2 linked regions of the Homo sapiens genome follow. The protein of the gene in region 1 interacts with the protein of each later gene in a pairwise test. Each region holds a gene or a part of one and is shown in the gene's direction. Other genes may lie near its edges.

Region 1 (7,917 bases):
TGCAGTGAGCTGAGATCACGTCACTGCACTCCAGCCTGGGTGACTGAGCAAGACTCCATCTCAAAAAGAAAAAAAAACAGGCCAGGAGCAGTGGCTTACACCTGTAATCCCAGCACTTTGGGAGGCCAAGGCGTGTGGATTGCCTGAGGTCAGGAGTTCAAGACCAGCCTGGCCAACGTGGTGAAACCCTGTCTATACTAAAAATGCAAAAATTAGCTGGGTGTGGTGGCAGGCGCCTGTAGTCCCAGCTACTCGGGAGGCTCAGGTAGGAGAATTGCTTGAACCCAGGAGATGGAGGTTGCAGTGAGCCGAGATCGCGCCACTGCACTCCAACATGGGCAATAGAGCAAGACTCCATCTCAAAAAACAAAGAAGGGAGGGAGGGAAGGAAAGAAAGGAAAAGAAGCAACAGGTAGAGTCAGGCTCTGAACCCCACACCAATCATAACACAACACACAGTAGGTTTGTTTTTGTTTTTTATTTTGGGCTTTTGTTTGTTGTGGAGACAGCGTCACCCAGGCTGTAATGCAATGGTACAATCATAGCTCACTGTAGCCCTGAACTCCTAGACTCAAACAATCCTCCCACCTCGGCCTCCTGAGTAGCTGGGACTACAGGGGCATGCCACCACGCCTAGCTAAATTTTTTTTTTTTATTTTTAGTAGAGATGAGGTCTCCCTATGTTGCCCAGATTAGTGTCTTAACTCCTGGGCTCAGGTGATCCTGCCACCAGGGATTACAGGCACGAGCCACCATGCTGGCCCTTGTTTTTTGTTGTTTTTTTTTTTTTTTTTTGAGACGGAGTCTCGCTTTGTCGCCCAGGCTGGAGTGCAGTGGCGGGATCTCGGCTCACTGCAAGCTCCGCCTCCCGGGTTCACGCCATTCTCCTGCCTCAGCCTCCCAAGTAGCTGGGACTACAGGCGCCCGCCACTATGACCGGCTAATTTTTTTGTATTTTTAGTAGAGACGGGGTTTCACCGTTTTAGCCGGGATGGTCTCGATCTCCTGACCTCGTGATCCGCCCGCCTCGGCCTCCCAAAGTGCTGGGATTACAGGCGTGAGCCACCGCGCCCGGCCTGTTTTTTTTTTTTTTTTTGAGACTGAGTCTCGCACTGTCGCCCAGGCTGGAGTGCAGTGGCGCGATCTCGGCTCACTGCAACCTCCACCTTCCAGGTTCAAGCAATTCTCCTGCCTCAGCCTCCTGAGTAGCTGAGATTACAGGTGCCCACCACGATGCCCAGCTAACTTTTTTTTTTTTTTTGGTATTTTTAGTAGAGACGGGGGTTTCACCATGTTGGTCAGGCTGGTCTCGAACTCCTGACCTCGTGATCCGCCCGCCTTGGCCTCCCAAAGTGATGGGATTACAGGCGTGAGCCACCGTGCCCAGCTTTTTTTTTTTTTTTTTAAGAGACGGGGTCTTACTATGTTGCCCAGGCTGGACTCTCAAACTCCTGGGCTCAAGGAATCCTTCTACCACAGCTTTCTGAGTAGCTGGGGCTACAAGCCCCTGCCACAGTACCTGGCTGTTTTTGTTTTTTTATAATTGTGGTAAAATATAAACAACATGGCCGGGTGTGGTGGCTCACGCCTGTAATCTCAACACTCTGGGAGGTTGAGGTGGGAGGATTACTTGAACCCAGGAGTTCAAGACCAGTCTGGGCAACTTGGCAAAACTGTGTTTCTACAAAAAATAAAAATATTAGCTGGGCAGCCAGGCGCAGTGGCTCATGCCTGCAATCCCAGCACTTTGGGAGGCTGAGGTGGATGGATCACCTGAGAGGTCAGGAGTTTGAGACCACCCTGGCCAACATGGTGAAAACCTGTCTCTTTAAAAATACAAAAAAATGAGCCAGCCATGGTGGCTCACGCCTGTAATCCCAGCACTTTGAGAGGCCAAGGCAGGTGGATCACCTGAGGTCAGGAGTTCAAGACCAACCTGGCCAACATTGTGAAACCCCGTCTCTACTAAAAATACAAAAAATTAGCTGGGCATGGTGGCAGGCGCTTATAATTCCAGCTACTAAGGAGGCTGAGGCCGGAGAATCGCTTGAACCCGGGAGGCGGAGGTTGCAGTGAGTCAAGATCGCACCATTGCACTCCAGCCTGGGCAACAAGAGCGAAACTATGTCTCAAATACATACATACATACAAAAAATTAGCCGGGTGTGGTTGCCGCACACCTGTAATCCCAGCTACGCGGGAGGCTGAAGCAGGAGAATCGCTGGAACCCGGGAGGCAGAGGTTGCAGTGAGCCAAGATCACACCATTGCACTCTATCCTGGGTGACGGAGTGAGACTCTGCCTCAAAAAAAAAAAAAAAAAAAAAAAAACTTAACCATTGCAGCCATTTTTAGGTGTACAGTTCAGTGGCATTAAGTACATTCACACTGTTGTGCAACCATCCCCACTATTTGCAGGATGTCTTCGTCATCCCAAACAGAAACTCTGGGTGTTTTCAATCTGCTGATGATTGCTACAGAGGAATTCCAGGGGACATCTGTTGCGCACCTACTGTGCTCACGCTGGGGCCTCTGGGATGGACAGGATTCTGCCAAGGCAGACATCTGGGTCAAGACAGTCCTGCACAGTTGTTCAGGTTGTGGCCAAGGTTGCGTTTGCAGATTTGCCATGTAAAAATACAGGATGCTCAGTTACATTTGAATTTCAGATTAATAGCAAAAAAAACTTTTTGGTATAATTCTGAAATATTTCATGGGACATATTTATACTAAAACGTCATGCACTGTTGATTTGAAATTCAAATGTAATTGGGCCTCCTCTATTTCGTCTGGCAAGCGTAGACAAAAGAATCCAGTCCAGGCCAGGCGCAGTGGCTCAAGCCTGTAATCCCAGCACTTTGGGAGGCCGAGGCGGGCGGATCACGAGGTCAGGAGATCGAGACCATCCTGGCTAACACGGTGAAACCCCGTCTCTACTAAAAATACAAAAAATTAGCTGGGCGTGGTGGCGGGTGCCTGTAGTCCCAGCTACTCGGGAGGCTGAGGCAGGAGAATGGCGTGAACCTGGGAGGCGGAGCTTGCAGTGAGCCGAGATCGCGCCACAGCACTCCAGCCTGGGCGACAGAGCCAGACTCTGTCTCAAAAAAAAAAAAAAGAATCCAGTCCATAGTCCCCTGAGCCATGTGCCCTGGGGTGCAGCTGGGTCCTTCAGGAGAAAAATGCTCTATTTCTGGCACTGGGACCGAGCCTGATGTGGGTTTTTTGTTGGTTTTTGTTGTTGTTATTGTTTTTGAGACAAGGTCTCGCTCCACCACACCCGGCTAATTTTTGTATTTTTAGTAGAGACGGGGTTTCACTACGTTGGCCAGGCTGGTCTTGAACTCCTGACCTCAAGTGAGCCGCCTGCCTCGGCCTCCCAAAGTGCTGGGATTACAGGTGGGAGCCACCGCCCTGGCCCTGGGCCTGATGTTGATGACCTCCTACTATGTGCACCTGCAGCTCTCCTGCATAGGCCTCAGCCGTCCTGCATGAGGACACTGGGAGGCAGGTGCTCCCTATCAACCCCGTGTTACAGTTGAACAAACTGAGCCCCAGAAAAGAAAACGTATTTGCCCAGGTCACACGGTGAAGAAGTGAGGGATTCGAAGCCCAGGTCCATCTGAAGCCAGAGTCACCCAGAGGAGAAAGAGTTGGAATTGAGAACTCAAGGAATGCTTGGAAGTGATCGGGCTCGAGCCCACCTAGGAAGAAACAGAGGCTGGAGACATGAGACTGTGTTGCTATTTCCTCTCATCAACCCTTGGGCCCTATTGAGGCCCTACCACAAGCCTGGCCCTGCAGCCCAGTGACTAGGAGAAATTAGACACAAGATAATAATAACAGCAATGATCTTTTTTTTTTTTCTGAGACGGAGTCTTGCTCTTTCGCCCAGGCTGGACTGCAGTGGCGCGATCTCGGCTCAATGCAAGCTCCACCTCCCAGGTTCACGCCATTCTCCTGCCTCAGCCTCCCGAGTAGCTAGGACTACAGGCGCCTGCCACCACGCCTGGCTAATTTTTCATATTTTTAGTAGAGATGGGGTTTCACCGTGTTAGCCAAGATGGTCTCAATCTCCTGACCTCGTGATCCGCCTGCCTCGGCCTCCCAAAGTGTTGGGGTTACAGGCATGAGCCACCGCGCCTGGCCAACAGCAATGATCTTTGAGCACCTATATTGCCAGTCTCCACGGTAAGAGCTTTCTTCATTTTTTGTTTTGTTTTGTTTCAAGACAGAGTCTTGCTCTGTCACCCAGGCTGGAGTGCAGTGGTGTGATCGCGGCTCACTGCAGCCTTCACTTCCCGGGTTCAAGCCATTCTCCTGCCTCAGCCTCCCAAGTAGCTGGGATTACAGGCACGCATCACTACTTCTGGCTAATTTTTGTATTTTTAGTAGGGACAGGGTTTTTCACCATGTTGGCCAGGTTGGTCTCAAACTCCTGGCCTCATATGATCTGCCCACCTCGGCCTCCCAAAGTGCTGGGATTACAGGCGTGAGCCACTGCGCCTTTCTTTGTATTTGTTCAAGTAATATACTGAAATATGTACTGTGCCTCCCACTTTATGGAGGAGGAAACTGAGGCCAGCAAATGAGGCTGTCATGGGAGGTGGAGACAGGATTTGAACCTGCCTCAGTGCAGGAGGCTCAAGAGCCTCTGTCTTCTCTCAGGGCACTGTGTGGGAGGGTGAGAAGGAGGGAGGCCCACAGAGGCATGACCTCTGATTGCCACTGTCACCTGGGCCCTGCTCTCTGAAGTCTCTGCCAAGCGGGGAGGTGGCCGGGGGAGGGCCCTGCTCTGTGCAGCCTCCCCTCCCCCGGCCCGCAGAGTTGAGCACAGAGGGACAGAGGCACGGAACCCCCAGAAATGTCCCTCCTCAGAAACAGGCTCCAGGCCCTGCCTGCCCTGTGCCTCTGCGTGCTGGTCCTGGCCTGCATTGGGGGTGAGAAGAAGTGGGTGGAGGGATGTGGGGCCCACACCTGGTGGGTGTGAGTGTGGCTGTGTGTCCTGTGGCTCTGTAGCCACGTGAGACATGAGTACGGAGTGTGTGCGTTTCATGGCGTGCGTATGCATGTGCGTGTCGGGGAGTGTGTGTGTCGGTGGCTGAGAGTGAAGTGTGAATGTCACATTGGTACAAACTGGGATCATCTGTGTGTGTGCACGTGCGTGCGTGGAAGTGGGAGTATGCAGTCGTGGTAAAAAAGTGCATGTCTGTGTGCATATGTGTATTTGTGTGCACCTGTCTCTCTGTGGGGTATGTGTGTGCAAAATATTTGAGTGTGTGGACATGTGTGAGGGGGTGAGTGTGTGCTGGTGTGTACGTCTGTGTTTTGCATATGCATTTTTTTTTTTTTTTTTGAGACGGAGTCTCACTCTGTCACCCAGGCTGGAGTGCAGTGGTAGCAGTGGTGCGATCTTGGCTCACTGCATCATCCGCCTACCCGTTTCAAGGGATTCTCCTGCCTCAGTCTTCAGAGTATTTGGGACTACAGACACACGCCACCATGCCTGGCTAATTTTTTTTTTTTGAGACGGAGTCTCGCTCTGTTACCCAGGCTGGAGTGCAGTGGCGTGATCTTGGCTCACTGCAACGTCCGCCTCCCGGGTTCACGCCATTCTCCTGCCTCAGCCTCCCGAGTAGCTGGGACTACAGGAGCCCACCACCACGCCTGGCTAATTTTTTGTATTTTTACTAGAGACGGGGTTTCGCCGTGTTAGCCAGGATGGTCTCCATATCCTGACCTCGTGATCCGCCTGCCTCGGCCTTCCAAAGTGCTAGGATTATAGGCGTGAGCCACTGCGCCTGGCCAATGCCTGGCTAATTTTTTTATATTTTTGGTAGAGACAGGGTTTTGCCATGTTGCCCAGGCTGGTCTTGAAATCCTGACCTCAGGTGATCCGCCCGCCTTGGCCTCCCAAAGTGCTGGGATTACAGGCATGAGCCACCACGCCCGGCCATGTACTTTATGTTAAAATGGGATCATATTCTAGATCAGCATTATCCAGTAGAAATTTAAATTTTTAATACAGGGCCAGGCACGGTGGCTCATGCCTGTAATCCCAGCACTTTCGGAGGCCGAGGCGGGTGGATCGCAAGGTCAGGAGATTTGAGATCATCCTGGCTAACAGATGGGTAAAAACCCATCTCTACTAAAAATACAAAAAATTAGCCATGCATGGTGGCATGCGCCTGTAGTCCCAGCTACTCGGGAGGCTGAGGCCGGAGAATCACTTGAACCCGGGAGGCAGAGGTTGCAGTGAGCCGAGATCGCGCCACTGCATTCCAACCTGGGTGACAGAGCGAGACTCCGTCTGAAAAAAAAAAAAAATTTAACACGTATGTAGACAATGTGCAAGGCACCATTCCATGTGCATCGTATGTAGTAACTCTTAATTCTCACGATAACCCTGAGGTAGATATTATTACCCCGTTCTACAAAAGGAGAAACAGTCCTGGGGAGACAGGATAAGTCACCGGCCAAGGCACACAGCTAGCTACATGTGGCCCCCGCGTGACGGCTGGTCTCTGTAGGCGAGGCTTTGTCCAGATGCGTGGGTAGAAGGTCTGGCCCGGAAAGAGGAACTGACAGCAAGGCTAAGCCAATGTCTGCCCCTGGGGGCAGAAAGTCACCTCCTGCTCTCCCTCCACTGTCCACAGAGGTAGCTCAGACAGGGTGGGGGTCACAGGAGAACGAAGGGAGAAGGGGGTAGTTCCTGGGCAGCAAAATCAGGTGGTGAAGGGAGGCATCAGAGGATGGCAATTAGAGAGGCCATTAGAGGGGAACCACAGGCAGACAGGGTGACAGGAGGGACTACTGACACAAGGTGAAGAGATGGCCCAGCCGGACGGGGTGGCTCACATCTGTAATCCCAGCATTTTGGGAGCCCGAGGTGGGTGGATCACTTGAGGTCAGGAGTTCGAGGCCCCAACATGGCAAAACCCCATCTCTTCTAAAAATACAAAAATTAGCCGGGCATGATGGCAGATGCCTGTAATCCCTGCTACTCGGGAGGCTGAGGCAGGAAAATTGCCTGAATCCAGGAGGTGGAGGTTGCAATGAGACGAGATCATGACACTGCACTCCACCCTGGGCAACAGAGCAAGAGACTGACTCTGTCTCATAAAAAAAAAGAAAAAAGAAAAAAAAAAAGAGATGGCTGATGGTTAAAGAGGGGTTAGCGGTCAGGGGACACATAAGGGTAAAGGCAGGAGGCAAGAGGACTGGCAGGGGGCTGCCCCTGGGCCACCGGGAGCGACACAGGATGAGCATGGAGGGAAAGGGAGAAGGGGATTCTAGGGTCCCAGCCTACCCAAGTTGCCCTCTGGTTCCACCTAGCATGCCAGCCAGAGGCCCAGGAAGGAACCCTGAGCCCCCCACCAAAGCTAAAGATGAGTCGCTGGAGCCTGGTGAGGGGCAGGATGAAGGAGCTGCTGGAGACAGTGGTGAACAGGACCAGAGACGGGTGGCAATGGTTCTGGTGAGGGTGTGCTGGGCTGGGTGGTGGGAGGGGACTCCTGGGTCTGAGGGAGGAGGGGCTGGGGCCTGGACCCCTGAGTCTCAGGGAGGAGGAAAGGGTGGGAGTGGGGCTGTGACCCCTAGGTCTGGGAGGAGTGGAGGGTTAGAGCTGAGAGCAGGAACTCCTAGGTCACAGAGAGGAGCGGATAAATGGGGCAGAGAACACCTGGGGAGAGCTGGGGCCTCCACTGTGATGTCCTCTCTCCTGTAGGAGCCCGAGCACCTTCCGGGGCTTCATGCAGACCTACTATGACGACCACCTGAGGGACCTGGGTCCGCTCACCAAGGCCTGGTTCCTCGAATCCAAAGACAGCCTCTTGAAGAAGACCCACAGCCTGTGCCCCAGGCTTGTCTGTGGGGACAAGGACCAGGGTTAAAATGTTCATAAAAGCCAGGTGTGGTTGTG
Region 2 (7,673 bases), on another chromosome or scaffold:
TCTTATTTATACCAGGTCTATGCAAAATGTCTTTCTCCAAAAGGCATGATAATTGTCATAAAAATAATTAGCTTTATGACTACTCTAGTAAGTCAATAAGAAATAACCAACGTTTTATAGGTGACACAAGAAAGTTAACTGAAAGCTATGAGAAGACACTTGAAATAAACCCATGGTTCTTGACTTTTGCTTGTGACTAACCTATGAGTCTTGGTGAAGAATGAGAAGAGTATATTTTTCCAAGTGATTTCTCCTTCAAGAAATGATGAACATCAGCACACTTTAGTAGATGAACTTGTATACAATTTTGATTTGATGTTTGGTTACCTGGGGACCATATTATTGGAAACATGTTCTTGTCTTTCAGAATGTGTCTGACTTTCTCCAGGAGTTAGTTGATAATCCTTTGAAAATCACACAGGCATACAGGCTTCTGCTTTAGCTTTCACCAAAATAACAGATTTTTAAAGCACAGCTTCTAGAATCTGGTATTTCTTCTTAGGTCGTAACTGTCCCCCAACCCTGCAAGCAACCCCATCAGATAGAAAATGGGGTTGGAAAGATTTAACTAACAACCCTTAAAGGACTATGAGCATTGTTATTCTGGGATGGAATACCTCTTCTCTGTTCACAGTTAGCTTTGGTGAGAACAATCAAAATATTTGATAAAACATATGGCTCAGGAATTTGACAGTTTTTCTTTCTACAGAAACACAACTCTTTAATATTTACTGCTTAGTCATTTCCTATGTACAAAATGATCTTAATTAAAATAGAATTCCAATTAAACCAAGATTTTAAAAAAGTAGCCTTTAAGAATATATTTATTTATGGCTTTTTAAAATCTTTATCAATTGCTACTAATTCTTTCTTAGATTGTCAGTTTATTCTGAGTACTTCAATACTTTGTAAATCTTCCCAGGTCATGTTTGTGATAGAAGCTTGTATGGTAAACACACACACACACATACACACACACCATCTTTTTTTGTTGTCTCATTTTATACTTCCATAGTGATGAGATATCATGAACCATTTCAATTGTAATAATGGGCCTTCTCAGATATGACAAGACCTTAAATGTATTTTTCCTTCTAATCCAGGGAACTGGACTTTTTTTCTGTTTTTCATTTGTGTGTGTGTGTGTGTGTGTGTGTGTGTGTGTTTTCTAAAACACCAGAAGCTACTTTGTCTTCTTGTTAGCTGTAAGAAAGCCACCAAAGAAGTAGGATACAGTATATATCTGGCATTATTATCCTTGGTGTGCTCTACCAATCAAGTTGAAATTTACCTAAGCCCCAAAGATATCTCCATGGTTACCCTGCCAGTGCTGGGCCTCTTTGGCTTTAGGCTGATTTAGCATAAAATGAAAGATCTCTGGCGTTGCTAACTAGGTAGTTTTTCAGATTCTAGCTGTAGGTTTCATTTCTTTTTGAGTATTTTAGAATATAGCAACTGGACACTCTTTTATATAAAGACTGAGATTTGGCTTCTTTCCAATTATTCTGGGATCATCTCACAATGGTTATTGACAAAAAAGTACAGAACTATTCCATGAAAAGGCATCTTGCTTCTGGTTGTATCCGTCCTCAATATTACAATGTTCTGTGGCACACAATGGCAAATTCTTGGATTTAAGAGCAGAAAGGGTGTTAAAAGTCATCTAGTGCGTTAATGCCACTTTAGAGATGAATAAATAGAAAGGAATCAGGTTTACTTAGCTTTAAATGTTTTCACTAATAACTTTGTTCGTTCATTCATTCATTCATTCATTCATTCATTCATTCATTCATGGAACATGGAGAGCCCCTGCCCTGTGTGGATTCTGGAGCTACAAAGTATAAGCACAGCCCTAGCACTTGTGGACTCCCAGTCCATTGGAAGAGGAAGACTGACAAATATCCATTATACCGAGGGAAACGTTATATCATAAAGGCACATTCAAAACACTCTGAGGCCACACCTTTGATTGTAGATGAAGAGTTGACAGAGGAAGCAATAAACATTTCCTCATAAAAAATGAGTATCGGGCAGTTTAGGGAGAGAAGTCATCCTGGGCAAAACAAACAGAAGTCAGGAAAGAGCACAGTCACTTTGGAAAATGCTTAGTGTGTCAGTGAGACTGGCACATAGGACTTTACAGCGAGGAGTGGTAAGGAAAGGCTGAGTTCTCATGGCGCGGCAGCATTATTGCGGACAGCTCAGACAGCTAGGTATTCAGTGAGGACAAAAGGCGGGAGCTCCGTGAGTTGCTGTTGTCCTGAAATTAGTTCCAAGCTGGTTGATAAATAGCCACCGATCTGAAGCCCCTTCCAGTGTCCTTTTGTACCTCTAGACCTCCTCAGACCCAGTGATACAGCAATTAAAGTGTTTACACTTTGCAGGAAGCCTTTAGGATCCCCCCAGCACTAAGCCCAGTTGGATGGTGCTGATAATTATTATTATTGTTTTTTTGAGCACTTCTCCTCTTGTATGCCACAGTACAGAATTTGAACTTTATCCTATAGGGTGGGGCTTGGAAATTCAAATGCATCCAGGGGTCGGGCAGGCTACATAGAAATGAGTGAAGCGAGTGGATTGTAAACAACAGGGAGAGGTGAAGATTATATAGAGTTGGAAACATTCAAATTAATTTTTAAAAAACGCTATATCAACAAACATAAATGAGTAGTGATTTTGACAGCACCAGTGCTCAAACTTTGCAGTTTAAGTAACAGGGAATCATAATGGCTTTTTTTCTTTAAAACTAGGAGAATGATCAAAATTCATTTTTTACAAAATTTGCCATTTTGATGAACTGTCAATTTTTGTAAAAAATGAATTTTTTCATTTTCGTTTTGATGAACAGAGATTATAGAAACCAAGGGGATATGAGGCCAAGAATATGAGCTGTACTAATTTGAAGATTTGGACAAGAAGATGCTGGCTCAAATTCAGAGATTTTGGGTTGCATATGAAAACAAAGTTTTCTACCAAACATCACATATGCTCACTCAAAAGTGGGAGTTGAACAGTGAGAACACATGGACACAGGAAGGGGAACATCACACACCGGGGCCTGTGGGGGTGTGGGGGGCAAGGGGAGGGAGAGCATTAGGACAAATACCTAATGCATGTGGGGCTTAAAACCTAGATCCAGATTGATGGGTGCAGCAAATCACCATGGCACATGTATACCTATGTAACAAACCTGCACGTCTGCACATGTATCCCAGAACTGAAATAAAAAAAATTAAAAAATTCAGAACAACAACAACAAAAAACTCAAAGTTTTTTTGTGTGTAATAGAATGATGGAAGAATTATTAAGGAAAACATGTCATTTCTGGCTTAAAAAGTTTAAGGTACCAAAAAGATGGCCGTGGGAGCTAAAGCCACTGGAATCTCAGAGAGAACCTTGTAAATCTGTGACGCACTGAAGCTTAGTAACTTACACAAAATATTTGCAGAGAAAAAAAAAACCCGAAAAACTTTGAGTGGCGAAATGGGATGTAACAAATGGCAAAAGGATCTTTACTGTTGTTACTATGCAGGGAACTTATGTGATAACATTGTTTAACATCTTTTTAACAGTTCTGGATAGAATTTATCCATCAACTTAACCAATTTACTGAGTACATAATATATGCTAGGTGTTGTTTTTTGCATGATTTTTAATAGGATTTGTTATTGAGAATTCACTATGTGCTCAGCACACTTCTAGGCAATGGGGATAAAATAGAGAACTAAACAGACAATCCCTGCCATCCAGGGAGCCTCCATTCTAGAGCAGGAGACAGGTGTAAACCTCATATAAAATCAGGTTATGGTGAGCAAACAGAATGAATTGAGTCTGGGTAAGAAGAGCATATGAAGCGAACTAGGTATGTAGTATGTGAGGGAACTAGGGTGTGGGGAATGAGATAACTGTACAAAATATGATGAAAGAGAATCTTTGGAGACCAAAAGCTAACGGAGTTTGGAATGGAAGAAGGTAGTGTTGAAGAGAGAAATTCACAATCCCCCATGTTGTGAGTCTAGAGTGATGAACGCTTGTAGCAAAGTGATACACTAGGTTTGGATGAGCTGAATTTGAGATTTTAGTGAGACATCCAAGTCTATCAGTATTTCTCAAACTTCCGTGGGTGTCAGACTCACCTGGAGTACTTGCCAAAAATCCCAAGGTTCAGACTAGGCCCTTTTCCTTCAACCAGCCTGGGCCTTTGTGTTCTTTATTAGCTCACTAGGTGTTTCTGACACACCAGAGTTTGAGAATCATTGGCTTTGACAGCCACAGATACAAGCCTGGAAAGAAAAATTGAGCAAAGGCTGGAGATGTATATTTTGGAGTTTCAAAAAGGTGTTAATTGAAATGTAGGGATGGGCCTACTCTTGCAGCTGGTGAATATAACAGGGAAGGGAAGCCATAGGACAAGTTTTGGTTGTATACATGTAGGTGGTGGGAAGACAAGGAGGAGCCTGAAAGAGCGACACATGAATTATTCAGCATAGGGGGGAAATGTGGAGAACTCAGTTCCCCTGTAACTGAAATGTGGGCTGTATGGAGGCAAAGCCCTCAGGATTACCTTATCCCTGGCATTGTGCCAGCATTTAATAGATAATCAATATTTGTTTATTGAATAAGTCAATGCATCCATGAATGGCTAATAAAAAATTTTTAGAATGTAAGTAGTCATATCACATGCAGTGGCTGAGGTCAAGAGACTAAGGGATAGCTAGTAGATTTAGTTAAAAGGAAGTTATTGCTATACAAGATATTGGGTAATTAAGTTTAAGCAGTGTGTTAGGCCCTCTAGTCATTTGTAACGTTCATCTTGAGCTGTTGATGAACACTGTAATAGCAATAAGATATATACACACATAATATACACACATATGTGTATGTATACATTGTATGCACATATACATGTAAAAGTATAAATATTTAGCTCTGGGGTCTTCATAGTGTCCTGTGGTTCTGTTGATATCCTGGAGCTGCTTCCTTCAGGCTGTAAATCTTGTGGGATGAAGTGTGATTTAGGAGTCTGAAAGATTGTGGAGAGCTATCTATCTTCGGGAGGTTGGAACATAGACAAAAGCAATGAGATTCCAGGGACATGTCTTCAGTAAGCTAGATAATCCATTTGCCACCCTCAGTTTTTCAGCGATTGCTCCCCAAGAATAGATATGATTTCTAGAGATTGCATAAAAATATAAAATCCTATTTTAAGATTTGTTTAAAGCTTTTTAATTCCAGACACATACTTCCTTTGCAAGTATAAACTTTAGTGTCATAAAGCAGAGATGCTTATTAGTCAGCTCTTTGGGATCTGCAGGTTTGTAGATGAAACATCTGACCTTTTTTGCGTTTTGAAATGTCATGCCCAATTGGATCTTAATGAAGATTCATTTATCCTTTTCACACTGTTAAGGATGGTCTATGGGGATAGACTTCTCTCAGTCCACGTGAACAGAACCCATTACTGCTAATGGAAGTTTTCCACATGGCTATGGAGGTGAATAGGCATTGAAATAATCTACATCTAGACTTTCACAGTCATTTTTATGTAACTATTTTAAGATTTTCCTGATGATCCCTTTTTGTGCCCAAATGCTGTTTGACATCGTCTGTAGGTATCTGGTGATGGGTCTGAGGTTGTAACTTTAACAGGTGTAAGTATTTCTTTCCTCTGTTTCAGCTGGAAGTTTTGAGAGTGAAATATTCACAGCCATTAAGAGACCTCCAAATTAATTTCTCAACATGCTTATTCTATAGTTCACATTCAATCCAGAGCACTGAAGGAACTGAACAACTGGACACTGTAGACATCAGATAGCTGGCCATGGTGTTGGCCATGGCGTCTCAGGATGTTCAGAACTTCTTCCAGCCTTTCTCTTCCTGGATATCTCGGGTTTATGAAGCTCTCCAGCAAGCAGGAGATATGTTATCTGCTTCGCTGGTTAACATAAGCAAACAAGACTCTAAATTGAGTGACAAACTAGATCAGGACTTAGATAATATTCAGATTCAGGAAACGTACTTTGAAGATGAAGAACAAGACAATGATTGGAGTCAAGAGGATGCAAATTCCTTGTTTCTTGAAGTGGATCATTTCTCATGTTGTAATAGTGATTTGCAGGACTCTGCCCAAAATTCAAGCCCAAGCCTTAGCCAACATGCAAAGGACTCATGTTCCACAATGTCCCAGTGGCCCAATTGGGCCAGTGATGACCGCAAGTTACCACATGTGCTTTCTTCTATTGCGGAGGAAGAGCATCACCTTGAAAAGCAAAGAAGTGGCCTTCAACATGGCTTTGACAGCCAGCTCCCTGGTACTTTAGAAACTGTTAATGGAAAAAAGCAAGGTAAGCTAGCCAGTCATCATTTTCTCTGCGTTCCTCCAAAGAGCATTTCTACTTATTTTATTTTGACTTGTTTTTAGTTATCATGTGGATTTTATTTTTCTCTCTCTTATACCTTCCCACATACTGGCTTCTGATTGAGAGATATAATCCTTAGGAATATTTTCAATATATAAAGCTTTGGAGGATCCACGTTTGGGAGTTCCATATTTCAAAACAATAGTTCTGAGCAAGTGAAATGGTGAAAAACGAGTCTGTGGATTCTGTTTGAGAAGCCCCTTGTGCACATGTCATGCTTTTAAAAATATCTTGCAAAATGTTCTTTTTTTCTTCTAGGTTAGGAATTTCTAGATGTTACTATATTATTCAGTGTGAAATCCTGTGCAAAAAGCCGTACTTATCGCAGAATTTTTAGTTGATAACACTCCAAGAACACTTCTCACAGTGTTTCACTGAGACGTGATGTGAGATGACAGTGGATAGGAAATCTCTGAAATAAGAATAGCTTGATTTTCTTTTAGCTCTGAATGGTAAGGACACATTTAATAAAAACTGCCTATAAAGATTTATGCTGTGAGAACTGAGCACATATTGGGCCTTCAATAAATGTATATTGAATATGATAAAAATGTAATTAACTCTCTAAAAGTAGCTGAGGTGTGTTCCAGCATGAATTTCTCATGCCTCTAATACTCTAACCTTGAAGTAAGGACATTCCACCTGGTTAAGGGACAGAGGTAAATGATATACACAGAAGGGATTTGGGTATGTGTGCATGGTGTGTAGTTGTAATGCACATATAAGTCACACAGATTGGTGAGTCATTTATGTGATCTAAAGACAAAGTTATTCAATGTCCCTCTTGCTGGAGAGAGCAGACTTTTCTGGAATACCTCATAGTCCCTTCATTCATTTTCCATGATTCCTATTAGCTTTGTCTTTTTAGGGAAAAGTTTTATCCAGATATATGAAGTCTTGGCATATAAAGAAACACAATTTCATATTCTTCTCATAATGCTCTCTTGATACTTTTATTCAAATTAAGGTAACATTGAAATGCTAGAATAAATTGGTGAAAATGAGGTAGGCTGATATTCTTTCTGAACCTGATAAGCTGTAGCTAATTGCAATTTTGAGTCTTTTAAATTGGCTATAGAAATATTCTAGAAATATCTGGGCCAGCAGTAGAATTTCTTAGATTTGAGTTGAAATTTCGATTCCTATTTTAGAACATTCTTGAAAAGGTTGAACTATATTTGAAATTGATATGAATTTGGCATACCACTAATTTTGCTAATTTTTGTAATTGTAAAATCTAATGGCAGTAAAACA

The links. The genes of interacting proteins can lie anywhere in the genome.
Region 2: the proteins of APOC4 (region 1) and SYT16 interact in binary tests that used the Homo sapiens proteins (3 or more experiments, as listed by UniProt).

Annotation. Positions count from the first base shown.
Region 1 is NC_000019.10:44,937,418-44,945,334, forward strand, and holds the start of APOC4 (apolipoprotein C-IV precursor), read left to right. Parts: upstream 1-4,819; 5' UTR 4,820-4,860; coding exon 4,861-4,936; intron 4,937-7,331; coding exon 7,332-7,473; intron 7,474-7,722; coding exon 7,723-7,888; 3' UTR 7,889-7,917. UniProt on the Homo sapiens protein: May participate in lipoprotein metabolism.
Region 2 is NC_000014.9:61,990,199-61,997,871, forward strand, and holds part of SYT16 (synaptotagmin-16), read left to right. Parts: intron 1-5,677; 5' UTR 5,678-5,821; coding exon 5,822-6,344; intron 6,345-7,673. UniProt on the Homo sapiens protein: May be involved in the trafficking and exocytosis of secretory vesicles in non-neuronal tissues. Is Ca(2+)-independent.